Regions from separate parts of the Homo sapiens genome. Here regions 1, 2 and 3 are each linked to region 4. The links come from fine-mapping of genetic effects on gene expression. A gene starts in region 4. Each other region holds a variant in brackets. All regions are shown on one strand. Distances are between the middles of the regions.

Region 1 (8,110 bases), 370 kb after region 4:
AAAGCTTCATTGCTAGAGAACTGTCACTATTTCATCTGCCTAGCAGCTCATTGAAAAATCCCAGTTCTCAGGGTTTGTCTTTATTTGACCTGACTCAGAACTTGCTCTATGCCAACAGTGCTATCCATGAGGCATTTTTCAAAAATAATCAATGACAATTTGTTTAATATCAAAGCTGCCTGAGGAGGCATAGTCTCGGGAATATATTAAAGCTAACAAATGAATGAGAAAAAAAAGAAAAGAAGAAAAAATTAGAAATGAACCCTCTATAATGACCTTTGAAAAGCTGTGACACATTTCTGGGAATCTAAAAGGCATGCCCATAAACAGGGCCATATAATTGAAAGACATGAGAAGATTCAAATCTCTCACTTTGGCTGAACTTGAGGCTCTGAACAAGCACAGAATAAAGGCCTAAGTAAAGTTGTAAACAGCCTTCCTGAGCATTGAAGCATTCCCCAATACATATCCTCAAATCACTTGACAAAGGTTAGGAGACATTTGTTCAAAGCATTTAACTAAATGTTGGTCCAATTATTAATCAGCCAACTAAAAAGCTAACTGAGCAGTTACTTCAGTGGCCACACACTACAAAAAATACAGACATCACAGCATTAGTCCAGAGAAAGAATATTAAACAAATATCAACAACTACAACAATAAAAAACAACAAACCCTGGGGAGGGGAACATCTTCTTTTTAGAGTTGCCACATTACACTACTTAAAATATCCCTTATTCAACAACAACAAAAAAATCACAAGACATGCAAAGAAACATGAAACCATGGCCCATACACAGGAAAAGAAGTAATTAATAGAAACCATCCTCGAGAAAGCCCAGACATTTTTAAACCTAAAAATTATGTTTAAAGAACTAAAGAAAGTGTCTAAAGAACTGAAAGGATGTATAAAAACATTTTACCAAATGGAAAATATTCGTAAAGATTTAAGAATCATAAAATAGAACCAAATAAAAATTCTGAAGCTAAATAGTAAAACAACTGAAATAAAAAAACTCACTAGATGAGATTAGTGATTCACTGGCAGAGTTTGAAGTGGTGAAATAAAAAATCAGTCTAGGAAAAAGGAAGAAAAAAATAATAAGAAAAAATTCACAGAGCCTATGAGACCCTGGGACACGATTAAAGCAGCTTATGCATAATAGAAATTGCAGAAGGAAAGGAAAAAGAGAAAGAAGTAAAAGACCTCTACAATGAAAAGCATTAAACACTGATGAAATAAACTGAAGAGGCCACAAGAAATGAAAAGATATTCCATGTTCCTGGATTGGAAGAATCAATATTGTTAAAATGTTCATACTACCCAGTAATCTACAAATTCAATGCAATCCCTATCAAAATACCAATGACATCCTTCACGGAAATAGAAAAAAAAATCCTACAATGTATAGGGAACCACTAAAGCACAGAATAGCCAAAGCTCTCTTAAGTTAAAAAAAAAAAAGAAAGAAAAGAAGAGAAAAACAACTGGAGGAATTATATTACCTGAGTTCAAATTATACTACAGAGCTATAATAAGCCAAACAGCATGATACTTGCATAAAAACAGAACCATAGACCAATGAAGCAAAATAGAGAACCCAGAAGCAAATCCACACACCTACAGTGAACTCATTTTTAACAAAGACAACAAGAACATACACTGAGGAAAAGATATTTTCTTCAACAATTGGTGCTGGGAAAACTGAATATTCATATTCAGAAGAATAAAACTAGACCCCTATCTCTCACCGTATACAAAAATCCAATCAAAATGAATTAAGGATTTAAATTTAAGTCCTCAAATTATGAAACTACTAAAAGAAAACATTGGGGAATCTTCCCAGGACACTGGAATGGGCAAATATTTTTTGAGTAATATCTCACAAGCACAGGCAAACAGAGCAAAAATAGACAAATAGGATCACATCAAATTAAAAGCCTCTGTACAGCAAAGGAAACAATCAACAAAGTGAAGAAATAACCCACAGAATGGGAGAAAATGTTTTCAAACTACCCATCTGACAAGAGATTAATAATCTGAATACATAAGATGCTCAAAAAAACTATAGGAAAAAAAATCTAATAATTCAATTAAGAACTAGGCAAAAGATATGAGTAAATATTTTTCAAAAGAAGGCGTACAAATGGCAAACAGGTATATGAAATGGTGCTCAACATCACTGACCATGAAAGAAATGCAGATGAAAACTACAATAAAATATCATCTCATCCCAGTTAAAAATGGCTTTTTTTCAAAAGACAGGCAATAACAAATACTAGTGAGGATGTAGAGAAAAGGGAACCTTGTCCACTGTTGGTGGGAATGTAAATTAGTACAACCACTTTGGAGAAGAGTTTGTAGGTTTCTCAAAAAACTAAGAGTACAGTCACCATATGATCTAGTAATCCCACTGCTAGGTATATACCCAAAAGAAAATAAATCAGTATATCCAAGAGATATCAGCACTCTCGTGTTTATTGTAGCACTGTTCACAATAGCCAAGATTTTGAAGCAACCTAAGTATTCATCAGCAGATGAATGGATAAAGAATATATGATACATGCACATAATGGAGTACTATTCAGCCATAAAAAGAATGAAATTCTGTCATATGCAATGACACAGATGGAAATGGAGGTCATTAGGTTAAGTGAAATCAACCGGACAGAGAAAGACAGACATTGCATGTTCCCACTTATTTGTGGGATCTAAAAATTAAAACAATTGAATTCATGGACATAGAGCATAGAAGAATTGTTACCAGGGACTGGGAAGGGGTGGAGATGGGGATGGTTAATGGGTACAAAACAATAGTTAGAAAGAATGAATAAAATCTCTTATTTGATAGCACAACAGCGGGACTATAGTAAAAAGGATTTAATTATATATTTTAAAATAACTAAAAAGGTATAATTGGATTGTTTGTAACACAAAGGATTAATGCTTAAGGAAATCACTACCTAATTTTCTGTGATATGTGGTTATTACTCACTGCATGCCTGTACCAAAATATCTCATGTACCCCATAATTATGTACTATGTACTCACAAAAATTAAAAAGAAAAAATTTTAAAGAAAAATACCAAATACGTAAGTAATATAAATTAGTATTACATTAGCATTGTTCATGTAATAGTTGCTGCTGTGTTGTTGAGCTAAATTGCTCCCCTTCCTACATGGGCAGAATACCATCTTATAAAGTGCAGAGTTTTTTATATGAGCATGCCCACATTATGTTGCATGCACGTTGTATCTTGAAAAGTCCAGTTCTTCCATCTAGTTGTCTATGTTAACTGCTCGGAAACAG[C/T]GGCTCTCAATCCTTACTGCGCGTTAGAGTCATTTGTGGAGTTTTAAAATATATTCTTGCTTGGGTCCTTCTTCCAGGGATGGCCATGGGTGGGACTGTGTGGCACTGGTATGTTGTAAAAGCTCCCTGGTGACTCTAATATGTAATCAGGGTAGAGATTCTATTCTACGACATCTTTGTTCTTAAACCCCATGAAGCTCTTTTGTCTTTATTTGGCCTTTATTTGGCCCAAACTCATCATTGCCTTTGTTCTTTAGTTCTCAGCTAAGGAATATTAAGGTCATATCTTTTGGCTCCTATGCTATTAAAAGCATAAAATCAAATGTGGGCACTAAAATCAAGTGTCTATATTCAGTTCAAGGTGGTCAGTCATATTCAAATTATAATTTTATAAAATTTTTTTTGATTATAATGAAAATGAAAATATAATATTAAAATAAAAATTCAATGGAAATTTTAGGGCCAGACTGTAAGTATTTTAAACTTTTCCTGCTATATACTCTCTACTTCAACTATTCAACCCCACCACTGCAGTGCAAAAGCAGCCATAGGTAACATGTTAAAATGAATGGGCATAGCTATATTCCAATTAAGTTTTATTAACAAAAGCAGGCCATGTTTCATACAATCCTGACCTAGGTTATTCCCTTAACTGCTGTGTAGTATTCCACTGTATAAATATAGCACAGTTTATTTATTCGTTCTCACAGTGGGAGAAATTTAAGTTGGTTCCAACTTAACATTAGCGGAAACAATGCTGCAATGACCATCCTTTCCTGTCTCCTGTGTGCATCTGCCAGAATTTCTAAAATGTGTACACATGCTAATAGCTAAATTTTATTAGGTATTATTAACAGCGTTTGGCTATGATTAACATTTATACTGAGCTTATTTTATTCCAAGCATTATACTAAGTCCTCTGTGAACTCTTTTAATACTCATGACAGAGAGTATTCTAGAGAAAAGAGGCTGAGACTGAGTCTCAGAGAGGCTAATTTGCCTAGGAACACAGATCTATTAGGTGACAGACTCAAGACTCAAACTAAGACATCATTTCTCCTGAGTTCATGTTCCTAGTCCTTACAATCTACTCTTTGGAGCAGAGAAATTTCTGGTAAATAATTAGATGTATCTTTAAAATTATTGGATAGTATCCCCTTTATCTTCCAGTGTAGTTGTTATAGTTTACACTTCTACTAGAGTTGTTTGAAAGTTCTCATTTCTCCACATCCTTGCCAATACTTGGTATTTGTCAGCTATTTTGATTTTTACTAGTATAATAAGAGTTAAATGTATTACAATTTATTAAAAATTATATAGTGCTAATTTCTAGTAAAATTGAACATTTTTCTTATGTTTATTAGCAAATAACTCTGAGATTGCTTATTTATGTCCTCTGCCTGCTTTTCTTGGACTCTTACTGGTTTATAGGGATTTTTTGTATATTTCAGATACCAAAATTGTATTATATGTTGCAAGTGTCTTGACCAAACTATTGCTTGTCATTAAAGTTTTCATAATATACTTCAGTTTTTATAATATAATATACTTTTTATAATATACTTCGAAGTTTTTATAATATACTTTTTATAATCTAATATCCTATTTAATTTGTCCATGGATTTTCTTAAATATTTTAATGACCTTATTTACTTCTAAAAACTCTATTGGATTCTTTTATTTTTCAAATAACCTATTCATTTTTCTTATTGTTCAATCATTTCTTTATTTTTACATACCTTCTTTTAATCTCTTTTTGCATTTTGGACATTTATTTTATACCTCTTTCTGATAATTTAAACATTTTTATCATTTACATATGGTTTACTTACATAGTTTAAATATATATGTACAAATACATAGCGTGTATACTATATTGAATATACATTATTATATGTGTGTGTGTGTGTATATATATATACTATATGAATACAGAATCTCTTCTAAAATTTACAGATAACAAATAATGTCATGGACTAGAGCAAGAGTATATCTACTCTGCCCACTACCAAGATGTAGGCTTAGAAATTGTGTGTAGTGGGTCACACTAGATGTTTTCAAAAATGGATTTAAGAAAGGATTTTTAGACTCAAGCTTCTTAGTAAACAAAAACCTTATTAATTTCAGAAAAGAACTCCATGAATCCTGGTTGCATGCTTCAGATCAACGGGGAAGAAAAAAGTAAAAATTACTTCAGAACAGTCTACTTTTATAATATCTTCAATGAAACAAAAGTTATATAGCCTTGAACTTTTAAAATTTTATTTGAACACATGTTATGAGGACAAGGTGGTAGCAGCTTGCTTCTTCTATCTGCTTTTGATCCATTTCTGGCATCTGTCATGAATATAACTCTCAGTCACAACTGATTGAAGCATTAGTATTATGGAGTGAGTTCATAGATCACAAACAATAAAAAGCTATTTCTAATGGTGCTTGGTGATAATTTTGTTAAGAGATATTCAAAGGTTGCTATTAAGACTTGTTTATTTTAAATTGTGAAATAAATGAGCACATTTCCCAGAAGTCTTTAAATATTAACAATGAGAATGCTTTGGTGGTTTTAAATTATCTTCTGCTTGACAGTGCCAAAGCTACTTCCTGAACATCACATCAGATAATTCCTGACCCCAGGGTTCACCCGTTTATACTAAAATTATCAAGTCTTACAACTTAAAGAAACATGAATAAATGTTAAATTCAGCGCACTTACTCTAAAGAATTCCTTCCTAAAATGGGAATATTTCCAGTCAATTATGTGTAGCTAAAATGAGTAGTGGCTGTTAGAGAAAGACCTTTCAAATATTTTTCTTTCTGATATCTTGATTCATTCATCAAATATTTATTGCATGCATACCACATGCCAAGCTCTATATTTGTTTGTTTATTTTGCCTTATTTATCTAAAATTAATCAACTGAGAAGGTGAAATGTTTGTCCCACCATCAGCTTGCTTTACCTTTTTCATGAGGCTGTTATTGTACTGCTTGTTTATGATAATTTTAATTTTAGTCTGTTTTTGTTGTTCAACCAAGACCATTAATTGGTTTGGAATACAAAATCAAAATGAAAATGAGATTTTAAAAATTCTAAGTAAATAAATGTGAAACATAAATAACTACAAACACACCCTTTCTGTAAATATTCCTATAACATCAGGCAATGTTTGGAAAACAGATCTGATGAAGAAAATGAAGGATTTACAGATTATCCATCTGCCTCAGCCCAACCTTTTAATGGTTCAGAACAAAGAAACCCCCAAAGGGGTTGGGAGTGGGGCTTGGGCACTTAATAGCCTACTGGGGTGGAAGAACATCAGCCTCCTTGCACCTTCCTTCATCATGTACTTGAGGAAGGATTGTATGGAGCCAGCTCATGGAGCCCTCACCCACCTTCCAGCAAGACCAAGTTAAAACACATCCCATAATTTCCTACATTAGCCTCTTAGAACAAACGTTCTTAACCTGGGGCCCTTGGACTGAATTCAGCAGTGTTTAACTTGGTTGGAAAGAAAATGACATCTAATTTTTACTAATCTCAAACTCATACTTAGTACACCTTTTAATTATGAATGCAGCAACAAGGCACAGTAGTATTGACAGAATATGACTTTGTCATAGATATTTTTATATAACATTATAGTTGTTGCAGGCATTTCCAAATATAGTTGACACCTATCATTACTTCAGAATTATAGGAGCATTAGCCTTGCTTCTAGAGATTGTCATTCAATGCCTGAATAAAAAAGCACATATACAACTATATCTCACATTTCCTTTTCTTACTTACCATTTTGTTACCTGCATCTAAGTATAACTGGTTGCCTTTATCATATGTAAAATATAATAATGATGATGATGATACTAAGAGCTTCGAGTTTAGAAGGAGACAAAAACCAAAAACATATGATTAAAAAAAAGTCTAAAAGAAAAAGACCACTTGAGTTTTTGCCCCAAAAGCCCTCCATGTGCCCCTCAAATGGACTTGCACAGGAATCACCTGGAATATCTTGTTAAAATGCCTAGTTTGAGTCAGCAGGCCTGGGGTGACAGACACTAATTAGCATTGCTAAGCTCCCAGGTGAAACTGATCTGCTGGTCCATGGATGATACTAAGCAGTAGTGGTAAGAGTGTAAGTCTTACAATTTATGGCCTCATCTTTCAGAATGTTTCTTTTTGTTTTTTCCTTTCTCCCACCTAGTACTGAGTTACACATAGTATTTGTAAAAGCTGACACAAGTTGATATGGTTTAGCTGTGTCCCCATCCAAATCTCATCTTGAATTGTAGTTCCCATAATCCCCATGTGTCATGGGAGGGACCGAGTGGTGGGTAATTTAATCAGCAGGCGTTTACCCTTATGCTGTGCTTGTGATGATGAGTGAGTTCTCAGAAGGTCTGATGGTTTTATATGGGGCTTTTCCCCTCTTGCACTTTCTTCTCTCTCCTGCCACGATGTGATGAAGGACATATTTGCTTCCCCTTCCACCTTGATTGTGTTTCCTGAGGCCTCCGCAGCCTTGCAGAATGGTAAGTTAATTAAACCTCTTTCCATTATAAATTACTCAGGCTCGGTTATGTCCTTACAGCAGTGTGCAAACGGACTAAACCACAAGTTTACGTCACAAATTTTTGAAATGGTGTTTTCTGGCTGGCTGGCCAGATTACAAGCATTGTGTCATGAACAGAACAGCAAATATCTCTAAGAAGCTTGAAAGCAAAATGATGCACCACTAGTCCAAATAATTAACATGAGTGTTGATAGCACCCTCTTTTAATCAAGTTGGTCTGATGGGTTTTC
Region 2 (8,110 bases), 43 kb before region 4:
CAAAGTGGGGATGTCATTGGCAAGTAAACAGCATGGCTATTTGCTCAGGATTCCTTCCTCTCCTACCTCCTGTGCTGCTGCCTTCAGTCCTGGTGCCCATCAGGTCTCGTCTGACTGACAGCTGTCACCAGGCCATCCATCATGACCAATCCAAACAACTTCTCTTCTAATTGGAATTTTATATGTTGGTTAGTACAGGGATAGACTCTGATTTCCTTAGAATTCTACACAAAATGTTCTGGCAGGAGGGAATCTTCAGAGACTGGGAGGGAAGCATGAATGTGAGAGAACAGTTGTGCAGTGCAGACCCCAGCCCCATTCTAGTTGTTTCTTGACCCCTGCCTGCCCTTGGTCACTGTAGGGAGGCAGGGGAACTGGCACTAGGCCCCACTGAGGGATTCCAGGGTTAAGGGTAGGTACCCGGTTCAAAGAAAAAAACAGCAAGGTTTCTTTAACTCTTTCATTCTAAAAACCATGATCTCAGTCCTCTGAGGAAAGGGCATCTATGACACCAGTGTCTGATGTCAAGATGTTACCGTGTTCCTCTGCCTCTACAGACAACCAAGCCTCATTTACAACAACAACAAAAGGAACAAATGTTAAATCTCTGCACCATTTTGTCTAGATGTTTGAATTTGTCTAGCATTTGAATTTTTTATCATATGCATATATTATCTCTTTGGAAACATACAGAGATATAAAGAGAAAGAAGGAAATAAAAAGAGGAAAAAAGGAAAGAATTAAAAAAGGAAAAAAGGAAAACCTTCACAGGTTTTAGTGCCTTACATATCCCATTATAAATCCTAGCTTTGATACCCACTAGTTGTTTGATTGTAGACAAAGTGTTAAATTTCTCTAAGCCTGGTTTTCTCATGCATAAACAGGGATCCTAACAGTGCCTACTCGCATGGGGTGGCTATAAGATTAAATGAGGTCATGCTTGGAAAGGGCTGAGCTCCCTGCACAGCGACAGTATGTTTTCTCTGAATATTAACTATCATTAATAGTAGCACTAGAAATAAAGATCCATACTTAAAATCTTGTGGCTCAACTTTTTTTTCTTACATATTAAAAAAGGTAGATGTACATAATTATCATCCATTGTGTAGCTGCAGATCAGGAACTTGCCAACAAGAGTACTGTACTACTAATAATACAGCCACAATGCACTTCATAGCTTTTGTGTTCACCACCTTGTTGGACTTGGAGTAGACAAATCAACATTAAGAGTTTTCATTCTGGCCGGGTGTGGTGGCTCATGCCTGTAATCCTAGCACTTTGGGAGGCTGAGGCAGGTGGATCATCTGAGGTCAAGAGTTTGAGACCAGCCTGATCAACATGGTGAAACCCCGTCTCTACTAAAAACATAAAAATTAGCCGGGCATGGTGGCAGATGCCTGTAATCCCAGCTACTTGAGAGGCTGAGGCAGGAGAATTGCTTGAATCCAGGAGGCAGAGGTTGCAGTGAGCCGAGACTGCACCATTGCACTCCAGCCCGGGTGACAGAGTGAGACTCTGTCTCAAAAAAAAAAAAAAAAAAAGTTTTCATTCCTCAAGATAAAGAAGAGATGGTGGCAATAAGGGGAGAAATGGAATATAAAATGTTGCTCCTAATGTCTGCTGTTTTAGGTGGAAGAAATATCCCACCACACAGAAAAGAGATGCTTAAAAAGCAAACACCCCCTACCTTCTGGAGCATTTTAGAAGACTCTGAAATCACCCAGACATTTGAGTCGTCAGCTGTGAAAGGCTTCCTGTACTGTACAGTGAGAAATTGTCTTTATGCTTATTATCTCACTTCATAAGAAAGTCTGAGAATAAATAAGAGGAAAAATATGAGGGATGCCCATGATGATCACTTGAGTTGAAAGACTCTGAAAATGGAAGTCATTAGTATCTGAAAGGCTCATAGTAAAATATAAAATGCATGATATATTTTGACAAAGATATTCAATGATAAAATATAGATCCAACTTGCAGGCCATTTATCAACTTTTGTCCTTTTGGAGGAAATAAACTTGTCTACTGTAGACAAGCTGGTATACAGAAGGAGAGAAAAGTTTCTTCAATGCTAGTAAACATGCCTGGGTATTCTACTGTCAGAGATTAATTCCTTTGGCTTAGCCTAGGCCTTCTTTTAAAAGGTGATCTACTTGAAGAAAGCTGACCTGGTAAGTCAGAATATCAGGTGTTACCATGTTTCATGTGATTAAACTATTTAGATTTCCCTCCTAACTCAAATCACATAAAGAACATGAGGCCAAGCACAGTGGTTCATGCCTGTAATTCTAGCACTTTGGGAGGCCAAGGCAGGTTATTCACCTGAGGTCAGGAGTTCGAGACCAGACTGACGAACATGGTGAAACTCGTCTCTACTAAAAATACAAAGATTAGCTGGGTATGGTGGCACACTCCTGCAGTCCCACCTACTCAGGAGGCTGAGGCAGGAGGATCACTTGAACCTGGGAGGCAGAGGTTGCAGTGAGCCAAGATCGTGCCATTGCACTCCAGCCTGGGCGACAGAGTGAGACTCCGTCAAAAAAAAAAAAAAAAAAAAAACAACCAGAAAAGAAAACGAGAGAAATGGACCATTTACAGGATGAGGATGAGAACATAGGAAGGAAGAGTAATCTGGAAAGCGTTGCCCTGACAAGATGTGCATGCCTGCCTTCAGTTCACTGAGAAGTTGGCCTGGGGGATGTTGGACAGGAAGATAGGGAGAATGGCAGTAGGTGAAGGACACAGGAAGAGAACAAGCTGGATCTGCAGTGCTACTGAGCACCAAACACGAAACACGAGGACACATAGCTTCTCGCAGGTGGAATGCACATGGCCGCAGAGATAGGGTGTAGAGCCAGCATTTGTATTTCAAAAAGATTTTTTAATTAAATCAGACCTATTGTTGACTAAACTAACATTTACACTACCACGCTGGTAAAATTAAAAGACTTATCCATTCCCAGTGTTGGAGAAGGTACACGGAAATCCATATGCTTACATCCTTTTCAGGAGGAGAATAGTTTAGTAGTGCTTATTCAAATTTAAAATACACATATTTCTAATCTAGAAATTTCACTTCTGGCAATCTGCCTTGCAGAAATATTAGCACAAATGCATGAGATATTTTTACAAAGATATTCAATGTAGCATTAAGTGGAAAAACTGAAGACAATCCATCAACAGGGACATGATAAGATCCATCGTGGGAGATAATATGAAATTCGAGACTAAATTAAAAGATGTACAGTATATCTATGTGTTCTATCTTGTTTAGAAGGAATTGTAAAAGTGGTTGGGTATAAAAAAGTGTTGCAAAATAATATTTATAGTATGATCAGATAGTTGTACTGAAAGATGGATGAGTGGATGGAAGGATGGACAGATGGATGAAAGGAGGGAAAGAGAAAGGAAGACAGGGAGAGATTGGGAGAGAGGATGGAGTGGGAGATAATATGAATGAATGATAGAGACGTGTGTGCATCTAATACATTGTCAATACAGATGATCTGTTGCATTGGGAGTGAGGGGAGGACGAAAATGTACTTTCATTTTTAATTTTCACACACTGTTGGATTGTTTGAAATTTTTGATGACGAGCATATACTACTTTTGTAATTAAAAACCACTGAATTCTCTTCTTATTAAAAATTGAGGGAATAGTGTATGCCTTCCTTTCAAGCTGAGTAAACGCTGAACTTCAAAGATGGAGGCTAGTATCTAATCTACTCTTCTCCTGGCTCTAGGGGTAAACTTTGGCTTATTATTTCCTCTCTGTATTGCAATGTTTCTCTCAAATGGGATCGATGACAAGTACCCTAAAGACAAATCCTGG[G/A]ACTATGTACAAGAAACAACATCAGTTATAAAGAAAGTCCTCCTCCAAGATTAAACAACCCCATCCAAATCTTTAGAACAATAGTTACCAAATTTTAGCTGCACAGAATTACTGGGAGGGCTTGTTAAAATACAGATAGCTGGGGTTCACCCTCTATGTTTCTCATTTAGTGGGGCCTGAGAATCTGCATTTATAACAGGTTCCCAGGTGATACTGATGCTGGCTGCTCAAGAGGCCGCACTTTGAGAAACACTGCTCTAGGTGAAAGAAACTATTTGTCAAAGACAAATAATAATGTTTGCCCCAGTCAACCATATTTGATGAGAACCAGAACAAACCCTGCTACTCCCCAAGCCCCTCTTTCCACCAGCTGAATGAGCTCCTAATCCACTGTATGCAATCCACCACAGGAGGAATGTGCTCTATGACACTGCAGACCAAGGATACAAAAAATTGGCACAGATCTCAGGTCCCACACCCTTAAGAGAAGAAAACTCACCTTCTGAGAAGATGATGTTGTCATTGCACTCATCAGAGCTACAGGAACACATGAAGAAAGTCTCACCAGGCTTTTTTTTTTCCTTCATAATGCACTTTGGAGAAGCAGCATCTTCCAGAATAAAGTCATGGTAGGGGAGCTTGGGGTCATGGCAAACTGTCTCTAGTGTTATGTTCTCGTCATTCTTTCTCCTAGAGTGAAGAGATTCATTGGAAGCGAGGGGAGAGGGAGAGAGAGAAAGAGAATAAATGAATAATATGGCCTCCAGACAGAAAGGCAATCTGGAATACTTTTCCTTCATGAAGTTGTTCCTAACAACGGCAGCTGGTTCCTGTTCTCCAGCATTCGCAGGCTGTCCTATAGTCTCCTATGCTTTTCTACTCTTTTCTGTTTTTCCTTTGTTTATTCTTGGAACCCATTTGTGATTATAAACATCACCTGGAGCAGACAGCGTTCCACGGGGCAGTCCTGGTGGAGAACTTTACATATTTAAGTCTTAATTAAATCATTAAAGGGGAAGACATGGAAAAAAAGAACATTCCTAGGTACTCAGGATAATTTTAAATCTTCCATCCTGAATGTAATGCAAACCTCACATCACACCCCTAGTTTAAGTGGCAAAATCTGTCCTGTCTAGCTATACTGTTTTCAAAGAGCATGCCTGGGGAAATAGTCACAGTTCCTCTTTTTTTTGTTTGCTGGGCCCCAGAGCATTGCGTGTAAAGGGTATACTCCTTGTCAACAGCTGGTTCTGCTGAGAAAAACGGGAAGAAACATCGCAGATAAAGAACTGCAGTCTTTCCCAAATTACAGAAAGGAGCAATTCAGAAAAAACAAACAAACAAAAAAAACAAATAAATAAAAGAAATGGAAAGGGATGTCAGGGTGTTCTTCATTTACAGTTCAATGAAATATTTTATGCTGTCATAAACTAACTACTTTGACAGTATCACTTCATAGCACATATTTGAAGACTAATTTAGCCCAGGGCTCAGAGAATTTCTCACATAGCATTTTCCTTGGGCCCTAGGAAATGCTCAATTGGCCGTCAGTGTACATTAGATTTTTAAACAACATGATTAATGCCCACTATTATAATTGAACAAAAGAACATTTTGGCTCTCTTGGAAAAGGGTATCACCTCTCTATCTACCTCCCTCTGCTCCCTCATGAACATACTATCTTGGATGACTGTCCAACAAGGCTAGTCTGACATCCACCCTTTCACCTCTGTCCTTTTTAGATGCAAAATACCTGTTGTCTTGAATCGCATTCTCTCTGTCTAGAGAGGGAGCGGAAGGAAGGGCTAATCTGGTCCAGTCAGTTTTGCTAGAGTAATCTTCTATGAAGATTCTGAGTGCACACATGAGCCAATGCATGCATGTACTCACTCACCAATTTTCCCCTAATCCTCCCTGCCCCATGCACAAAGGCTCACTGCTCACAGCAAGGAAAACGGAAGGCAGGCTAGAAGCAAGAAGCAGCTAAGACACAGCTTGCACCTATAAAAGATGCGGGGCCATCCCCATGAGAGAAAGAGCAACTTTGACCAATACCACTTTTTTAGTGCTTAAGTCAAGGACATTAAAGGACAATATGTTGACAAAGGGATAAGGGCAAGGGTATGGGTTAGGACAATCCAGGCAGGAATGGTGCCAGTGTCAACATCCATGCAGCCCAGAGTTGACTCCAGTGGAGGTACATGTGTCTGCTTGTGAAGGGGCTCAAGGGTTCTTAAACTAGAATTCCGAAAGACACAAGAGGAGCAAGGCTTTGCTAAGTTGGTCCCTGCTGTGACAGGAAGAGTGACAAGCAGAATAATTGGTTGAGGGTGGCTATCAGGACACCAAATGAAACTAAATGAAAGTTGGCATGATCATACAACAAATGATGTATAATTTGGAAATCTACCCATCTTTAACCCCAAAGCTACTTGGCAGTCTTCAAATCAGCTGTAGTCATGGAACAAGAACACCTTCCTCCCTGCCCCCACAGTTTTGTGTGTGTGTGTGTGTGTGTGTGTGTGTGTGTGTGTGTGTGTAGGTTGTTTTTGGTTTGGGTAATAAAACGAAGGTATGCTGTGCCCACAGAAAGGCATGGTCTCTTTTCCTTGTGACGCTTATAGAGGCCTAAGAAGGAACTGTGAGCCATGAAAGAAAGCTGCTCTATAATTATTGGGCAGCTCTTCCAGAGCCTCCGGTTTTCTACCTCTTAGCTACTGAGAGAACTAACATCACAGAGAGAAAACAACTGTAATACTTGAGACCTGGTAAAGCCCTTAACTGCTTTCTCCACTCACTCCTGTAACAGCCAGGCACAGCTAACTTTTCAAACTCTTTTTGGATATAGCTGAGCATAGGAAAGGTAAATACAAAGAAGTAAATACGGACTTCTTTTTTTGTCCTGCAACATTTGCTCTGAGCCACTGAAGAGGTTGTCAATTTCCACTGAAAGAAGAACCAACATGATAAAATTAATTTTGGAGGCTGGGCACGGTGGCTCATGCCTGTAATCTAAGCACTTTCAGAGGCCGAGGCAGGCGGATCACAAGGTCAGGAGTTCGAGACCAGCCTGGCCAACACAGTGAAACCCCATCTCTACTAAAAATACAAAAAATTAGCCACGTGATGGTGGTGTGCACCTGTAATCACAGCTACTCAGGAAGCTGAAGCAGGAGAATCGCACGAACCCGGGAGGCAGAGGTTGCAGTGAGCCCAGATCACGCCATTGCACTCCAGCCTGGGCAACAGTGGGAGACTCCCTCTCAATTTAAAAATAATAATAATAATAATTTTGGTTATAAAATATTTCTATCCTTGGAGGCAGCTTAAGCATTTTATATGGAATGGGCACACAACTGACATTAGTTAAATGAATGAATGAATGAATGAATGAATGAAAAAACACTAAAACTGATTAAAAAAACAACAACACTGAAATCTACAATCATAGTAGAGCCTTTCAGTTTCCACACTGGCTATTTTTACAATAGCCTCCTGTCTTAGTTTAGGTTTCCTGGAAACAGACCTTGAGGCTGTGAGAGTTCTGTGCAGGAGGTTTTTGGAGATGCATCTGTAAGCGACTAAAGGCAACAGTATTGCACAGAAGGAAAAAGCTAAACTATAATGCAGGTTGCAGCAAAGGCCTCAGTGAATGCCTTGGAAACTCTGAAAATGGGATGTCCTTCAAAGATGTACCACATTATGGCAAAATAACCAGGAATTTGTTTCTCTGCATCAACTAGCCATGGGATGATGGCTACCCATGAAAAGTGTCCAACGTGAATGAGGCAGCTCCCATCACTGGAGGGAAGGCTCAGCAGTGATCCTTCAACAGCCAACACTCCCAGGGAATGAGTGCCTTGGTCATGAAGGAGGATCAAGGAGGGCACTATAGCGTACCCTATACTTCCCCTTCTCATTATCAACACCCCTGGCTTCACGGGAGAATTTTCTTTGGCCAGCACAGGTCAAAATAATGTTCATTGTATTTACCCTTTATAGCTGGGACACAGAAAAGACAGGGAGGCCTCCTCTCTTCGACATGCTCACATTTTTTTGAGGCTAGCAAAGCCTCTATTCTAGAGAGACTTGATTCACATTTAATGATTTGGGCTTGTATTACTGGTCAGGAAAACAAAAATCTTAATTAAAAGAGCCTTTTTGGGTTGCAAAAGCAAGTGCTCACACCACCGTAGATATTTAAGAAACCACGGAAGGAAGCTTTGAGGCCATCTAGTCTGGTGTCTCAATCTTTCCTGCATTCTATTTGACATATGG
Region 3 (8,110 bases), 350 kb after region 4:
AAACTTTCTGGTGTTCATATTCCTTCCAGAAAATGATAGAATTTAGGGAGGTTACAACACTCGATTTGTGAAAATAATTCCTTCTATCCAAAACAGAGGTTCCTAATTGTTTTAAGGACATGCTTTGACTTGTATGGAGAAAGATCTACAGAAAGCTTTCACTCTGACAGGGAAGACATCTCTGTCATCATCATTTATCCATAAGTCTTATTTTCATGTATCAAAACAAATACCCATAGCATGATTTCAGGCTTCCATGGCCAGCCAAATAAGGTCATCTCTACCTGTTCATCAGTGTCCAAGTTCCTTCAAGGAAGTACAAACCCATTCTGTTATCACAGATTATGCTAAACACAAATATCCCTGGAAAAAGCAGCAAAATGGCATGTTACAGACTGAGCATTTGTGAAATAAAAAAATATCGTGGCTTTTGAGTTCAGTAGACCTGAGTTTGCTATCTGAGTAAGCAAGTTTCTTTCAACTTCTCTCAGCCTCTTTAAGATAAGTCTAATAAAAATTACCTCATGGACCATTGCAAAGATCAAATGAGATAACATTTCTAAATCACTTAGCTGTTGGAATATAGTAAATGTAATAGCTGTAGCTATTATTATTTCTAGTTACTTTCCAGAGAGTCATTTGCAGTGAAACATAAGGCTTCTGGATTCCTGTGAGATACATGGAATCTTCTGGGGGTGGTGAGGATAGCACGTAAAGAGAAAGATAGCAGTAGGAAGAGACAGTCTTGTGAAAATAGTTCACATTCCAGGGACACTCATGGTGAGCCCTACTGTGTATGATCCTCACTTTGATTGAGGGCATTTTCTAAGTGTGCACACTTGATCCTCCTTACAGAGCTTCTAAAAATGACTCAGGGATACTAATCTGTTTGAAAAGTGGAAAGTCCATCTTGCTCAGCTTTGAATTGACATTTTTCAGAATAGTAAGAAATAAGAAGACTTATTTTAAACCTAGATTATTTCAAAGGAAAATAGAATGAGTAGGCCTTAGAAAAGATGGTAGGAGGATCCAAGAATTTTTTATAACTTATAAAAGTAATTGTGCTGTTCTTTCCTGCAGCCTAGGAGGTTCATTAAATAAAGTGCTTAATAAACGTTCATTAATGAAATGCTGATGGTTGTCTCAAGGTTTTATTCAATGATCAATGATGTGAGGTGCTAAATTTTGGTGTGCCTGAGTCTTATTATAAAGTATCTTTCCAAGACATACCAGAGCCCAACAAACATATGAAAAAAAAATGCTCAAAATCACCAATCATCAGAGAGATGCAAATCAAAACCACAGTGAGATATCATCTCACACCAGTCAGAATAGCTATTATTAAAAAGTCAAAAAATAGCAGATGATGGTAAAGTTGCAGAGAAAAGGAAACACTTATACACTGTTGATGGGAATGCAAATTAATTCAGCCCCTGTGGAAAGCAATTTGGAAATTTCCCAAAGAACTAAAAATAGAATTACCATTTGACCCAGCAATCTCATTACTGGGTATATACCCAAATGAAAATAAATTTTTTTTAACTTTTATTTTAGGGTTGGGAGTACATGTGAAAGTTTGTTACACAGGTAAATACGTGTCGTGGGGGTTTGTTGTACGTATTATTTCATCATCCAAGTATTAAGCCCAGTAACCAGCAGTTATCTTTTCTACTCCTCTCCATTCTTCAGCCCTCCCCCTCAAGTAGACCCCAGTGTTCAGTTTCCTTCTTCGTGTTTATAAGTTCCTTATCATTTAGTTCCCACTTGTAAGTGAGGACCTGCAGTATTTGGTTTTCTGCTCCTGCATTAGTTTTCTAAGGATAATAGCATCCAGCTCCATCCCTGTTCCCACAAAAGACAGGATCTCATTCATTTTATGGATGCATAATATTCCATGATGTATGTGTATCAAGTTTTCTTTATCCAATCTGTCATTGATGGGTGTTTATGTTGATTTCACATCTTTGCTATTGTGTATGGTGCTGCAGTGAATATTCATATGCATGTGTCCTTATGGTAGAATGATTTATATTCATCTGGGTATATACCCAGTAATGGGGTTACTCTACCAACAAGACATTTTCACTCATATGTTCATCACAGCACTATCCACAATAGCAAAGACATGGTACCAACTCAGGTACTCACCAATAGTAGATATGATAAAGAAAATGTGGTACATATACACCATGGAATACTATGCAGCCGTAAAAAAGAACAAAATCATGATCATGTCCTTTGCAGCAATATGGATGCAGGTGGAGGCCATTATCCTCAGTCAATTAACACAGAAACAGAAAATTAAAAACTGTATGTTCTTAATTATAAGTGGGAGCCAAACATTGAGAACACATGGACACAAAGACGGGAACAATAGAGACTGGGGACTGCAAAAGCAGGGAAGGAGGTTAAGATTGAAAAACTACCTATCGGATAGTATGTTTGCTACTTGGGCAATGGTATCATTAGAAGCCAAACCTCAGCATTATGCAACATAGCAAACCTGCATGTTACCTCATGAATCTAAAATAAAAAACAAAATTTTAAAAAAGTTTTTTCTAGATATATACACAGGCAAATATCTCTCACTTCAGCTTTCTTCAGCAGAAATGTCCTTTCAAAATTTGGCTAAAATGCAAGTACTCCCTAAAGAACAACACTTTAGGAATTTGTGGTTACTTACTTGATTATTTTCATGGAAGCGTCTGCTAATGGCATGTTGGAACTCAGAACAAAATAACTTTTTATCAGTAGATAGGGAAAGACTAAATTAGTGAACATGTAACCCTAATTATGAGCATTTCCTCTGAATGCTAAGAAGGGCAAAATTTTTAAAAAAGAAGAAATCTGTAGGCACCTGGACAAGTTGCTTCTGAAACTTTAGCTGCATCAGAACTACCTGAAGGATTTGTTAAAATATAGGTTCCTAGGTACCACCGCCAGAGACTCTGATTCGGTAGGTGTGGGATGGGAGCCAAGGATTTGTATTTCTAAAATGTTCACATGTGATGCTGCTGTTATGAGGACCATACTTTGAATGGCAATAACGAAGCATGTTGTGGGTTGCATATAAGTGTAGGGACTAGAGGAGTCATGTGGGAAGATGAGGAGGACTTCCAAACACTGAAGAATGTATCTGGAGCTCGACTTCAATAGAATGTGGGGAAAGATTTATAAATCCAACAGAATTAGAGATGGATGCTCTCCAGACTTTGCATATGCCATATCTCTCACTAGGAACATCCTTAGGTCTTTAACCATCTGCTGAAGCCCAATTATCTTTTAAAGGTATCTTTTAAACAATTGTTCCCTGACCAGCCAAGGCTGAGTCACTGCCATTTTTCAGCACACTACCATAGCACTCTAATTGGACCTTCATTAACACATTCCACACTGACCTGTAATCTCTTGTTTGCACCTCTTTCTCCCTAATCATGAGTGCAGCAAGCTTGCAGCATGTCATAGTTATCTTTGTATCTAT[C/T]GCACCTGGTGTCATGCCTTTTATGTAACTGACATGCAGTAAATGATTATGGGATTAGTGAAAGCAAACTGGGGACTAATTTAGATTTACTTTAAAGAAGTAATAAATTATCTGCTCTATTTTACTGCGAAACTGTTCAGAATCATCTGTACCTGTGCCTCTACTTTCCTCCCATTCTATATTGAACCAACTTCAGTTAGTTCAAGTGGCTGGAAGTTGGCCTAACTTTACTTAAGCTTTCATCTCCATCTCTCCATCTTTAAATGTCCCCAAAGATGTTCAATTTGCTTAATCTAATACTTTAATTTGGATTAAATAAAATTATTTAATTTGAATTAAATAATTTAACCAAGCAGTTGCATTTGAAGTTTTGATTCCATTGGCTTTTTAATTGAATCTTTCCTTGAATTACCTCTCTGCGTACATATTCCTAATAGTTTTTTGCTCTTTGGCTACACATTCTCAATATTTTTTTGGCTGATTTTTTTTTCTTCTCTTTGACAGCTTAATGTTGGGGTGTTCCAAGGCTCTGTCCTTGGACCTCTTCATTTTTCTGTCCACAATCATTGGTGATCATCTCCAATCTCAAGGCTTGAATGCCATTGGTACCATGATGACTCTATTGCACCTGTAGCCTCAATCTCTCTAATGAATCCTGGATATAATTCTCCACTTGGATAACTAATCTAACTCATTCAATGGCTATTTTAACTTATTGAAGGCACATTAAATTTAACTTTATCAAAATTGAACCCGCCTGATCTCTAATACCCCTATACTAGTTCCTCCCATAGACTTATGTTAGTAAATGTCAGTCTATTCTTCCAGTGGATCATGCCTGCAACTTCAGTATAAGCTTTGCCTCTTCATTTTGTGTTACATGACACCTTAAGCAAATCTCTTCTCTATCTCTGAAATGTATTCAAAATGCATCCACTTCCTACCAACTTCACTATGTCTATTCAGGTGCATCACCTGTCACCTGGAATATTATAACAGCGTCATGACTGATCTTTTGCTACAGCCTTGCCCTAGATAGTTTAACATAAACTCTGCAGTATATACTCAACAAAGTAATACAAGTTTTAAATGACTGACTTTTAAGATTTCTTGTTCTTATATCACTGTTCTGCTCAAAACACTTCAATGGCTTCAAATCTCAGAGTAAAACCCACAATCCTTACAATGGCCTGTCTCTGACCTACTCTCCTACCACTCCCAGCCTTGCTCACTGTGCTCTGGCCACCTCAGCCTTCTAAATGTTCTGCACACCAAGTGCATTCTTGCCCTAGGGCTTGTACTTGCTGCCTCTTCTGCATGGAAAGCTCTTTCTACAGACATGCCCATTTCCTTTTGCTCAGATATTAGCTTGTCACAAAGATCCCAACAACTCTGTCTAATACACTTCCCATTAGCTCTCTTTCCCTGTATACTGCTGTATTGTTCTTCATAGTACCTGATATATAGTTATTTTTTGTTTGTTTTTTCCTATCTCTTCCAACTAGAACAAAACTTTCCAAAGAAAGTTATCCAGTTTGTTCACTACTTTATCTCCAGTGCCTAAAGTAGTGCCAGACATATGAATGTGAGTAGATGAGCAAAAGTAACACATGTGGTGAAAATTGGCTAGAGATGCACAAAAGCCATTTCTTCTTTGTAGGACTATGGTTAATTTAACATTCACCAGCACCTTAAGTCTAGGTAGTAACCATGACAGGTTTTCACCAATGGGAGGGGTGTATTTTACCATTTAATTTTATTGAGACCATATTTTAAACATGATGAAGCTGTACAAAGGAGCCTGTGTCCTTAAGCTGCCATGTGGAAGACAGCTCACTGAACCCCATTGGCTGAGATGTGAGCAAGAAAAACACCTCAAGTTGTATTAAGTCACTAAGAATTGAGGATCACTTGTTATAGCAGTTAGCCTTTCCTAACCTTGAAAATCCTATTAAAGCTAAAAGTATTTAGATTAAAACTAATCTAATGTGAAAATACTGGGAAGCTCAGAAAGATTATGTATGTGATTTCTCTAAGGAAAGGCTGCCACATAAAATACAGAATGCTCAGTTAAAATTTAATTTTAGTTAAACAATGAATAATTTCTAGTATAATATTGCATGGGACATACATATACTAAAACAGTATTCATTGTTTATCTGAAATAAAAATATAATTGTGCATCCCATATTTTTATTTGCTAAATCTGACAACTTTAGTCTAATGAGATATGTAACACAATCAGAACTTGAGTCTAATTTCAATTACCAATCCAACTTTCTTCCCACTAGTCTACCCTAAAAATTGCCAATGCAAATGTGTCAGGAGGCAAAAACTCATAAATTTATATTTTCTATCTCTCATTTACAAAGAAACCTAACAACATTCAGAAACCTTGAGAAGCCATTCTTCTAGTTCTTTCTCCCCAGAGAGAGAACACAGGTTTGAATACAGGATATGGCCTACGGGTATATCTAATTTTGTGTTCCAGACAGCTCAGCTTCAGTATTAATATCCAACAACTTATAACCAGTAGAAGTAATTAAAACTACATAGTCCCGGTGATAATATGACAGGGTCAATTTAAAGGTTAGCTTTGAAATTTAAAAATGCCGTAAAAAATTTACTTGTTCTTGCTGCTCATTTCCCGCCAGAAATCACAAACCTCAATGAAGCTTTGGTAATCATCTCCCTGGCAACTAGTCACCACCTTCATCATGGAATGAGGACTGTGAAATTTCCGAGAAAAGCTCCAGAATTTAAATAGGCCTTGCTTTCAAACTAATAAAAAAAGATGGAAAAAAAATTGTAAAATGCAAACAAGTACATATGAATATAAACTGGAAACTGATTCAGCTTTCAAAATATTTTCTACTTTTACGAGGTCATAATGACAAGAACTAATGGATTGCTTCATGAAATTCAAGCATTCTAAGTTTTATTTTATAGCAGCCTGCACTCAACAATGACAATTTTAATTCATTAAAAGTAAAAGTATAAAAATATGACGCATAAATTTATAGTCAGATAAATAGAAATTTGAGACGACCAAAAAATTGTTGCTAGAAAATTCATTGCTTATTACATAACTTTTCACATATATATTTACAATGTAAATGTTGTAAATGTTTTTGCTTTCTGTTTTAAAGGATTTAAAAAGTATTGGGTTGTGCTTTAGGCCAGAGGTTGGCAAACTACAGTCCATGGGCGAAATCTTGTCTACCACATGTTTTTAAAAATAAAGTTCAATTGTGCCTTCTCTATGACTGCTTTTGCTCTTTAATGGTAGAGCTGGTAGTTGTAACAGAAACCACAGGATCCACAAAGTGTAAAATATTTACTATCTTGCTCTTTGGAAAAGAAGTTTGCCAAACTCTGCTTTAGAGTTTAAATTATTCTAATCTGCTGCAGGACACTGTCTTCTTTAGAGCACTTTACTTCAACATTAAGGCTTGAACGGGGAGTACATGTAAAAGATGTGACAAAATGCCCCCAAAAGTTGTTCTGAACCTAATAAAATTACAGAAATAAGATGACACAATCAAGTCCTATTATGAACTCTTGAGCTAAAATGGGAAAAGAACTTTTCTAACTGAAATTCTGAAAATGGAATCAATATGAAAGATGTGGGACCCATCAAGGGAGGCTGGATAGAGACAAGAGGGACAAATGGAGAAACAGAGCACTAAGAGTTGTAATGAAACTGGCTCTTCTGTGTATAGTTCATTCAGTGGAAAGTTCAGATGAGAGAGGCTGAGCCCTCCAACTGGGGGAAGGATCTACCCCATCAATGCTATGGGATGAACGATTGTTCTTGGCCCTACAATTAGCTGGTGGCAAGGCCAATTCCCCAATTGTCACATTTTCTCCACATCACCCACAGATGGGTAATATGCTTCATCAACAACTAAGAAACAGCCTTAATTAGATACCATTCTCTAAGGGGTAGCTGTGTATTTTTTTCTTATATTGGGCATAAAATTATTGACCCAAACTCTAATGGTGTCTATTTGTTTACAGAGTTTGAAGGAAGCCTTTTACTCAAGGACTAAAAGTAACAATAAGAAGGATGAAGTGAGACTAGCTAGATCTATCTGTACATAGTGTGAAGTTGGGTAGTCCTAGACCTTTAACTTAAATGTGCAATAGGTGCTATGTGGAAGAAGGACCTCACACATAATCTATAGATATCATTCTTGGTCATGACTACAACCCCCTCCTAAGGGCTGAAAATATCAAACCAGGATCTCCAGCCTAGTCCTTTCTCTCCAGTTCTAGATTCTTAGATCTTCCTTGTATTAGTTGAGCTTTTTGGGAAGCAGGCACCAAGATGGAGTTAGAAATAGGAGAATTAGGAGAAATAGTCAGAATTAGGAGAAATGCCATGAAATCCAAAGGGGGAAAGAAGCAGAATTAGGCAGAGAGCACCTTCAGTCCATAGGTCTGAGACCTGTGAAAGGGAGGGGGAAGAACACAGAGTTTTCGCTAGGAAAGGCCCCATACTGCAGCAAAGCTCTGAGAAAGTCCCAGCCAACCCAATGGGAAGCTCCAGTGCAAAGATTGCCTATAGAGGATTCCCACATTGGACAGATGTGGGCCTAGTACTCCCACAGGATCGGATACTCCTGC
Region 4 (8,107 bases):
AAAAAGAGGAATCAGTATCTACTGGATAATTCCTCTGGTGACTTTATTTAAAATTTTGCAGTGGCTTTCAAGGCCCTACACTGATTCAAAATTTATGGCTAAAGGAATTGCATGAAAACTTCTAGCAGCTTTCCATCATGTTTGTCAGAAGTTGAAACATCTTTTTCCATATTTCATGAGAATACAAGAACCAATTCCATACTTCAAAAACAGTCAAATTACTTATTGTGATCAGAACTAAAACTATTCTAACTGAAAGTAAAGATTTTACTATTTGGACCAAACACCTAACAAACAGTGACTGCTTAGTTAAATGCTCGACCTCAGTTGCATTAGATACAGTAGGATGAAGTGGAGGCTCAGCTCAGCACTTCCTGGGTGCTAAATGATGTGTCAGGCACTGCCAGAGATCCCAGAGATAGAAAACTGAATAAGATTGAGAGGATTAAAGGTATAATGGGCAAGAGAGTTACGTAAAGATATGACTTTGGCTTGGTATTGTTACCAGCTAAGTGAGAGGTCTGTATCTCATAGGAGACATTTACCTCAAACTGGGACATTCAAAGCAGGTTTCCTCAAGAAGATGACACTTGAACTACGTCTTAAAAGATGAGTGAAAATTAGCCAGGTAGCAGGAGTTCCAGACATCCTGAACAAAGGAACAGCTGCCTAAATTGCTCACATTGTGTGTATGTGTAGTGACACAAATAGACTGGGAAAATGTGGGCTGTGGTGGGATGTGAAGCAGCAGAGTCAAATGGGAACCAGGTCAGAGGCCCCTGGTAAGCCCAATTAAGGAGTTAATAGTAATAACAGAAGCTGATATTTATTGAGCATTTACTATGTTGCAGGCACCATGTTAAATACTTTAAAACAATATTTTATTTAATCCTCACCATAACTCCATAATCCTCATTTTACAAATGAGACCAGGGATGACTAGTAGGTAAAGCAACTACAACAGGCTACACAGCCAGTACATGGCAAGTGGGTCTGGAACCCAGGACGGCCTGATTCCAAAGTTTATACCCTACACTCTTCTACCACCAGCCTATCCTCAAAGAGAGCACTAAATGAACGCATTGGGTCCATCATGCTGGCTATGGAATGGAGAATGCAATTAAAGGCTGCCCAACTGGGGCTCCGTGACAAGGCAGGGATAGGAAAGAGACAACAAATTGATTCAAAAATACATTCAATGGGACCTAGAAGGAAACATTCAACATGCACATCCTCCTAGTGCATACAACAACAAAAAAAAATGAGGCTTTTGAAAATGAGGTGTAGAAAATAAAACACCAGTATTCCATAATGCTTTCAAATATAAACAGTTAAAACACGTATCCTTTTCTTTACTTATAACATGCTCCCAGCTGTTAAATTCAATGGCAAAGACCAGGTCTGTCTTATTCATCTGAGATGGTATCCCAGGTCTGAGCATCCTGCCTGGCAAGAGATACTCAATAAATATGGTTGAAAAGGTAGAAGAAAAAATGCCCAGTTTTTGCAATGATATCAGAGGTGCCTTATTGATCCAGAGTTAAAAACTAACCTTACTGAAAAAATTAAAAAGTCATGTTCATAACTGAGTAGAAAACATGTAGTAGTTATGTTGACTACATAGACAACAGTCATCATTAGGGAATGCTACATTGAAAAGAAGGCAATGAGTTCAAAATGTGATTAGTATTTTGTATAAATCATAACTCATTAAAAATAAGATGTTGAGTGGCCTAAAGGTGGAAATGTGTTTTTATGAGGCGGAAAAAAAGCACGAGTAGACTGAAGATCAGATTTGGGGCCTAATGATGTCTAGTCTCTTACCCTGACAAAATAAGCAGGTTATTAAAGTGATGTGAAGAACCTGATCACTATGACACTTTTACAAATTCTTTGTCCTCAATAAGAATCTATCTACTTCCAGGAACCTGAAAAGTCATATTTTTCAGACCTGAAGAGTTATTGTGCACTTTACAGTTTTCCCCAAAAGAGTCATTTCTTAATTTTGATCATTTAGGAAGAGTGAATCTATTAAGTCAAAAACGAAGAAAAAAAAACTTTCTATTTCTTAGTGAAATTTGTTCTTTTATTTAAATCCTTTGCATACTACTAAACAGAAGTACAGAAGCTACTAAACAGAAGACAGATTTTTGGGCCTTTTTAGGTGACGTAAAAGGAGCTTGTTGTTTATTAAACAATCTCATTACCTGATATATTATCTTGCATTAAGATATTTTGAAAAAATGTTTTCAGTTTACCAATTACGTTAGAGAAATTCTGAAACTATTTACTTACATGAAAAATTAAAATGTAAGTAGAATTAGGTTTCTCGTCTTCAATATATCTGTCTTCAACCATTGGCCAACTTTGAAAATTTAATTTGAATCAAATGAATACAAATTCAAAATGATTCATTAATTCAACCATTTTGAAACTTCAGTTCTATAAAAATATGAAATCTGTGGGCCTTGTAAAACTGTCTAAATACCCAAATAAAAAGCCACCACGTTTTTAAGCTAATTGTTTAAAAGTGTGTATATTGATGAAATGAAAGTGACTCGTGAACTATTGGGTCTGGAATTTGCAAATCATAAACCTTATCCTTGTAAACAGAACCTAACTAACAACATCAGGGCCTGCTAATTTCCTTCTTTTATAATCTGGAACAAAAGTTGTAATGATTTTTAACATCCACAGAAAATTAAGGGTGCCATTTTAAATATTTATTAGCAAAATGTCACTTAGGTTTTAAAAGTCTGGAGGAAAATGAGAGACAATTGAACATTCTGGTACTGCAATGCAGGAAAAACGCCAAGAACGAAACACTAAGATTTTATTAAAACCATAGGACTCAAATGTGTGTCAAGACTTTTTGCTTGCAATAGTGCCTCTTCCTAATTTGATTAAAAGCTTCCATCTCCATGCCACCTTCAATGTATGCCATAATTTTTAAAAAGTTCCCAATCCACTTCAAACACTCTAAAATTTACAACTGACCGTGATGCGCATTTTTTCTAGACAAACCTAAAGGTAAATCTGCCCATGTCCCTGGATAAATAAAATGAGTGCCTCCGGGTGATGTGGACTGTCAACTCCTCTACATTTCATCCAAAGTCTACATGGGTCATCTCCAAGTCACCAGAAGAGCCAGGGGAAAGGAGGGGAGGGGCACGATACGTAAGATGTTAAACATGAAGATGATGTAAAATTACCCAGATTCAAGCTGGCCATTTTACAGATGAGGAAACTAAGGCCCAGAAAAAGCTCTATGACTTGCCCAAATACTCGGTTACCCAGACCACAGCTGCAGATACTGTTATTTGGATCATAGCTGCAAAAAGTCTAACTTTTGGCCGGGCGCGGTGGCTCACGCCTGTAATCCCAGCACTTTGGGAGGCCAAGGTGGGCGGATCACGAGGTCAAGAGATCGAGACCACCCTGGCCAATATGGTGAAACCCCGTCTCTACTAAAAATACAAAAATTAGCTGGGCGTGGTGGCACGCGCCTGTAATCCCAGCTACTCGGGAGGCTAAGGCAGGAGAATCGCTTGAACCCAGAGGCAAAGTTGCAGTGAGCCGAGATTGCGCCACTGCACTCCAGCCTGGTGACAGAGCGAGACTCCGTCTCCAAAAAAAAAAAATCTAACTTTTGAAGTCTCAGAGGTTTTACACTTTCCATAACAAATAGTTAAGAACCCCCATTCCTGCATGCATATATATATTAATATTATATATATTTATATATATAATTATATATATATTTATATATATATAATATATATATATATTTTTTTATTTTTATTTTTTCCTTAAAAACCTTCAGAGACAGCGATCAGGTGGGTAGCCTAGTTAGGATTTTAACCCTTCGGTTTCCAACAAACGATAATTGCATAGAACCATCAACTCCCTGAAGACAGGACTATCTTGTTCCAGGCAAAATCTACAGCCTCTAGCACCCAGTAGGCATTCAGTGAGGGATTCTCGGTTTCACCTGAGCATCTCCACTCCCTATCCATCCATGCCAAGGCGTCAGTGGAGCCAGCTAACTTTCTTTTGGAAATCGATTATTTTCTTGAAACTTGTTTCCAAAAACTCCGGGCCAAGAAGCCGGCCTGAGGGAAAGCGTGGCCGTCTCCAGGAGCTAAGGACTGAGGAGCTGGCCTTTTGAACGGGTGGCTCAGAAAGAGCTGGGTGGGCACGCGGCATCGCCATGGGCGGAGTGGCCCAGGTGCGCTGGCTGCTTTGGCAGCTCAGGCTGCCGCTCCGGGCCGCTGCTCCCCGGCCGCCTTCAGATAACCAACTTCTCAAACTTCCCTTTCCGGGGGTGGGGGCTCGCCTCGAACGCGGCCAACACAACGCCTTTCCTGCTCGCACAAAGGGGACCAAACGTGCCCCGCGCCCCTTGCAACTGAACTTTCCTTCTCTTTTTCAAGAAAAACTCACAATCCCTGCAGCTACGGGAGTCGGGCTGCGTGAGTGTCGCGGGGGAAACTTTCCTCGTTTCCGCCCGGGGGCCGGGTTGCCGGGCCCGACTGTCAAGCGCAGCGGAGAGGCGGGGACCCCAGGAAGACCCCCGGCGCCCCGCCGAGCCCGGGCTGGGGACCACTCACCCGACTTCTGAACGTGCGGTGGGATCGTGCTGGCGATACGCGTCCACAGGACGATGTGCAGCGGCCACAGGCCCCTGAGCAGCCCCCGACCCATGGCAGACCCCGCTGCTCGTCATAGACCGAGCCCCCAGCGCAGCGGACGGCGCCTTCCCGGACCCCTGGCTGCGCCTCCGCGCCGCGCCCTCTCCGGACCCCGCGCCGGGCCGGCAGCGCAGATGTGCGGGCCAGATGTGGCGCCCGCTCGCCAGCCAGGAGGGGGCCTGGAGGCCGGCGAGGCGCGGGGAGGCCCCCGGCGGCCGAGGGAAGCTGCACAGGAGTCCGGCTCCTGTCCCGAGCGGGTGCACGCGCGGGGGTGTCGTCGCTCCGTGCGCGCGAGTGACTCACTCAACTTCAACTCAGCGCTGCGGGGGAAACAGGAAACTCCTCGCCAACAGCTGGGCAGGACCTCTCTCCGCCCGAGAGCCTTCTCCCTCTCCTCGACGTCCAGCCCCTAGCTCTCTCGTAGCTGCCAATCATGTTTCCTAGACCAGCCCCTCCGAGAGCTTTGGCCGACTTTCAGCTGCCCCTCACCGCCCTCCCACACCACTCAGGAGTTCCTCGCTCCAAGTATTTACTCAAGAATGACTAAGTGCACACAGTTCACAAAGTAACAACAGAAAACGTCCACGTTTTCCCTAGTAGATCAGAACATCTGCCGCCTCCCCTCAGCTTTCTTCAGATTGCTCCTAGGTGCTTTAGAGATGCGTTTTCAAATTGCAAGTTGAGATCCAGGAGTGAATACTCCAATCTATTGAGTCGCGAGCACATTTCTTTCCCAAATAAAATAGTAACGGTAAATTCTACTTCATTAAATTTGTGCTTCAGTTGTGTCTATATGCATGTATGTATGTGCATACACTGTCAAGTTGTAAAATGTTTTTCTTTAGGTCGAAGTCTAGAGGTTTTTCTCAAGTTTTAATGTACATATTGATCACCTGGAAATCTTATTTAAAAATGCAGATTCTAATTCAGTAGGTCTAGGAGGCAGGCAGAGATTCTGCATTTCTAATGAGCACCTGGATAGAGCGTCCCATTTTGCACCGCCTCTTCCCGGGACTGAGTCAGTGAGTAATTGTAAATGATCACCTATCACGAAGTGATAGTGGTGGGAAATGTAATTTTCAGAATGTATAGAGTATAGCAGAAACTGTAAAATTAAAAGTGGGTTGGGAGTCACCTGAATGCTTGTGCTTTTATTCCCTTAATGCAGGTGAAGAAAGAGAATACTTACCCTCTCATGTGCAAACGGGGTAACATGGGAGCAGAACAGTATAAACTTTCAAATTTCCTTTCTTGCTAGGGCAACCAGATTTGCCCAAGACATTCCTGGTGTACATGTTTTGTAGTTTAAATATTAATAGAACCCCCTTTCTCTTTCAGATATGTCCTGATTGGATAATAAACTATGTGATCAACCTACTTCCCACTCTCAAAGATATGATTCTGTACAGCCCTCTGGTCAGTAGATCTTCTAGCAATTCATTTAATGAATTCCTTTACCTGAGAGGAAGATTGCAGAGGCAAGGGTTTGTGCCAGGGTCTCCAGGGAATAAAGGTAAATAGCCCTCCCCCAAACCCAACTCCCAAATCTTTCCTGTCATTCTAAGTGTTCATTTGCTTCATCCTGGAATTTTAACTCATGCTCCACCTAGCACCCAAGCTGCCTCTGGATGTTTTGCCACTTCCCAGTACTCATGTTGAAGATGCAGAAAGTGCAGTGAAATCAGGAGGGCTAGGCATCTTCTTTCCCACCAATTAATTGCCTTGCCAAAGCTGGAGTGACTTTGTCAATGGAGGAAGATTGAGTTCCAAATCTTCTCCCTATTCCCTCTTCTGCCACCAGCCCATGCCACTGCCATGGCTTGTGTAGGAGTCTCCCACGAGTCACCCTCAGCCACGGCCGTTCTGGGCTCTTTCACTCAGTTTCTCAAACGAGAGCTGAATTCAGCTTTTCAAAATACAAAACTAGTTATACCAACCCTCTGATTAAAATCATTTAATGGCTTCCCACTGCTCTTGAGATAAAGAGAAGATAAAAACCAGATCCTTGAACGTGTCTTCAAGCCTCCAACTCTCCCGTAAACTTTCATTTGGCTTCTCCTTGCTTACTGAAAGCCTTCTCCAAATTTCGTGAATATGCCTCTGTAATCCTCCTACCCTTTATGCTTAGAGCCTTCCCCAGTGTGGACTTCCTTCCTCTGACCTTTTTTTCTTCACCCAGCCAACTCCTGGTCTTCGTGGATTGAATCATAACTTCTTTGATGGGCAAGCTTTCCCTCACCTCCATGAGTAGATCTTGTATTACACGTTCTCTTGGCACCATATGCTTTTCTTTTAACAGCTGTAACTTTATAATTATTTGTGTCATTCTTTAATTTATATTTCTATCCTCCACTCAACTCCAAATTTCTTGAGGGCAGGTATTATGTATCTTTCCCTCCACTTACTATTGTGTCCCTAAGCATCAAACACATAATCGATGTTTAATAAATATTTGTTGGATGAATGAATGAATCAGGCAATAAAGATTTAGAAGAAAATTGTATTTGATTGTTCTAGTTGCTTCATAACTCTGGAGAAAACATTGTTACCGAATATTTGAGATATAAACAGACTACATTTTAGCCGAGAATGATGTCACCACTACTTCCTTTTCTTAAGAATGGAGAAGTATGTGGGTTTCTTTCTTCTTCTTTTTTTTTTCCTACATTTGCCCAAGTTCCTCCAGATAGCAAACATGTACTTTCTTTCTCCTGAAAACACAATGTGGCAAATAAATGTCCAATAGATTCCAAAAGCTTTGTTTTCCTTAATTATCACAAAGATGTTTTACATTGTTGGAGGCTAGATATTTAAATCTATGGTGGAATGTTTAACTGGTGGTCTTTGCCATGATACATCATTAATGTTGATTTTAATTTTGTTTGCCCTTAACATTTCTGATTTAATCTCCAGTCTCCTGTGAAATTGAGAAGAATCAGAATTCAGCATTGCCAAGTGCAAGCTAGCCTTTTGAAAATCATCATAATAAAAATAATAGATGTGTAAACTCATGCATATTGCAATTTGATAATTTTAAAAATTCATCAGGCTGAGTGCAGTGGTCCACACCTGTAATCCCAGCACTTTGGGAGGTCTAGATGGGAGGATTACTTGAGCCCAGGAGTTCGAGACCAGCCTAAGCAACATAGTGAGATTTCATCTTTACTAAAAAAAAAAAAAAAAAAAAAAAAGCCAGGCATGTTGGCATGTATCTATAGTGCCAACTACTCAGGAGGCTGAGGTGGGAGAATCACTTGAGCCCAGGAGACGAACGCTGCAGTGAGCCATGATTGTGCCACTGCACTTCAGCCTAGAAGACAGAATGAGACCCTGTCTCAAAAACAAAAAATAAATAAAAGAAAAAGAAAAAAAAATTGTCATGATGCCCTTCCTTTTGAAATTCTTGTTGAAAGGGA

The links. PIP is the estimated chance that this variant, and not a neighbour inherited with it, causes the effect. A credible set is the group of variants that fine-mapping cannot tell apart.
Region 1: its variant is the best candidate, but not a certain one, in a credible set for the expression of TGFBR2 in lung (TOPMed, PIP 0.52).
Region 2: its variant is the best candidate, but not a certain one, in a credible set for the expression of TGFBR2 in whole blood (TOPMed, PIP 0.67).
Region 3: its variant is the best candidate, but not a certain one, in a credible set for the expression of TGFBR2 in fibroblasts (GTEx, PIP 0.52).

Annotation. Positions count from the first base shown.
Region 1 is chr3:30,232,169-30,240,278 of GRCh38, reverse strand. No RefSeq gene overlaps it. Among named protein-coding and RNA genes, the nearest start is that of LINC01985, 280 kb to the left of the region's middle. The variant C/T (reference allele first, on the strand shown) is at 3,312.
Region 2 is chr3:30,646,682-30,654,791 of GRCh38, reverse strand. TGFBR2 (transforming growth factor beta receptor 2) reads right to left here. Exons shown (of 7, transcript NM_003242.6): 3 at 4,332-4,522. Among named protein-coding and RNA genes, the nearest start is that of TGFBR2, 44 kb to the right of the region's middle. The variant G/A (reference allele first, on the strand shown) is at 3,833.
Region 3 is chr3:30,249,311-30,257,420 of GRCh38, reverse strand. No RefSeq gene overlaps it. Among named protein-coding and RNA genes, the nearest start is that of LINC01985, 270 kb to the left of the region's middle. The variant C/T (reference allele first, on the strand shown) is at 3,482.
Region 4 is chr3:30,603,481-30,611,587 of GRCh38, reverse strand. TGFBR2 (transforming growth factor beta receptor 2) reads right to left here and starts at 4,987. Exons shown (of 7, transcript NM_003242.6): 1 at 4,611-4,987. The coding sequence starts at 4,704. It overlaps LOC105377015 (translation initiation factor IF-2-like), which reads left to right and starts at 4,664. Exons shown (of 2, transcript XM_047449400.1): 1 at 4,664-5,442; 2 at 6,030-7,189. The coding sequence starts at 4,664. The coding sequence ends at 5,104. RefSeq lists a silencer at 4,814-4,913.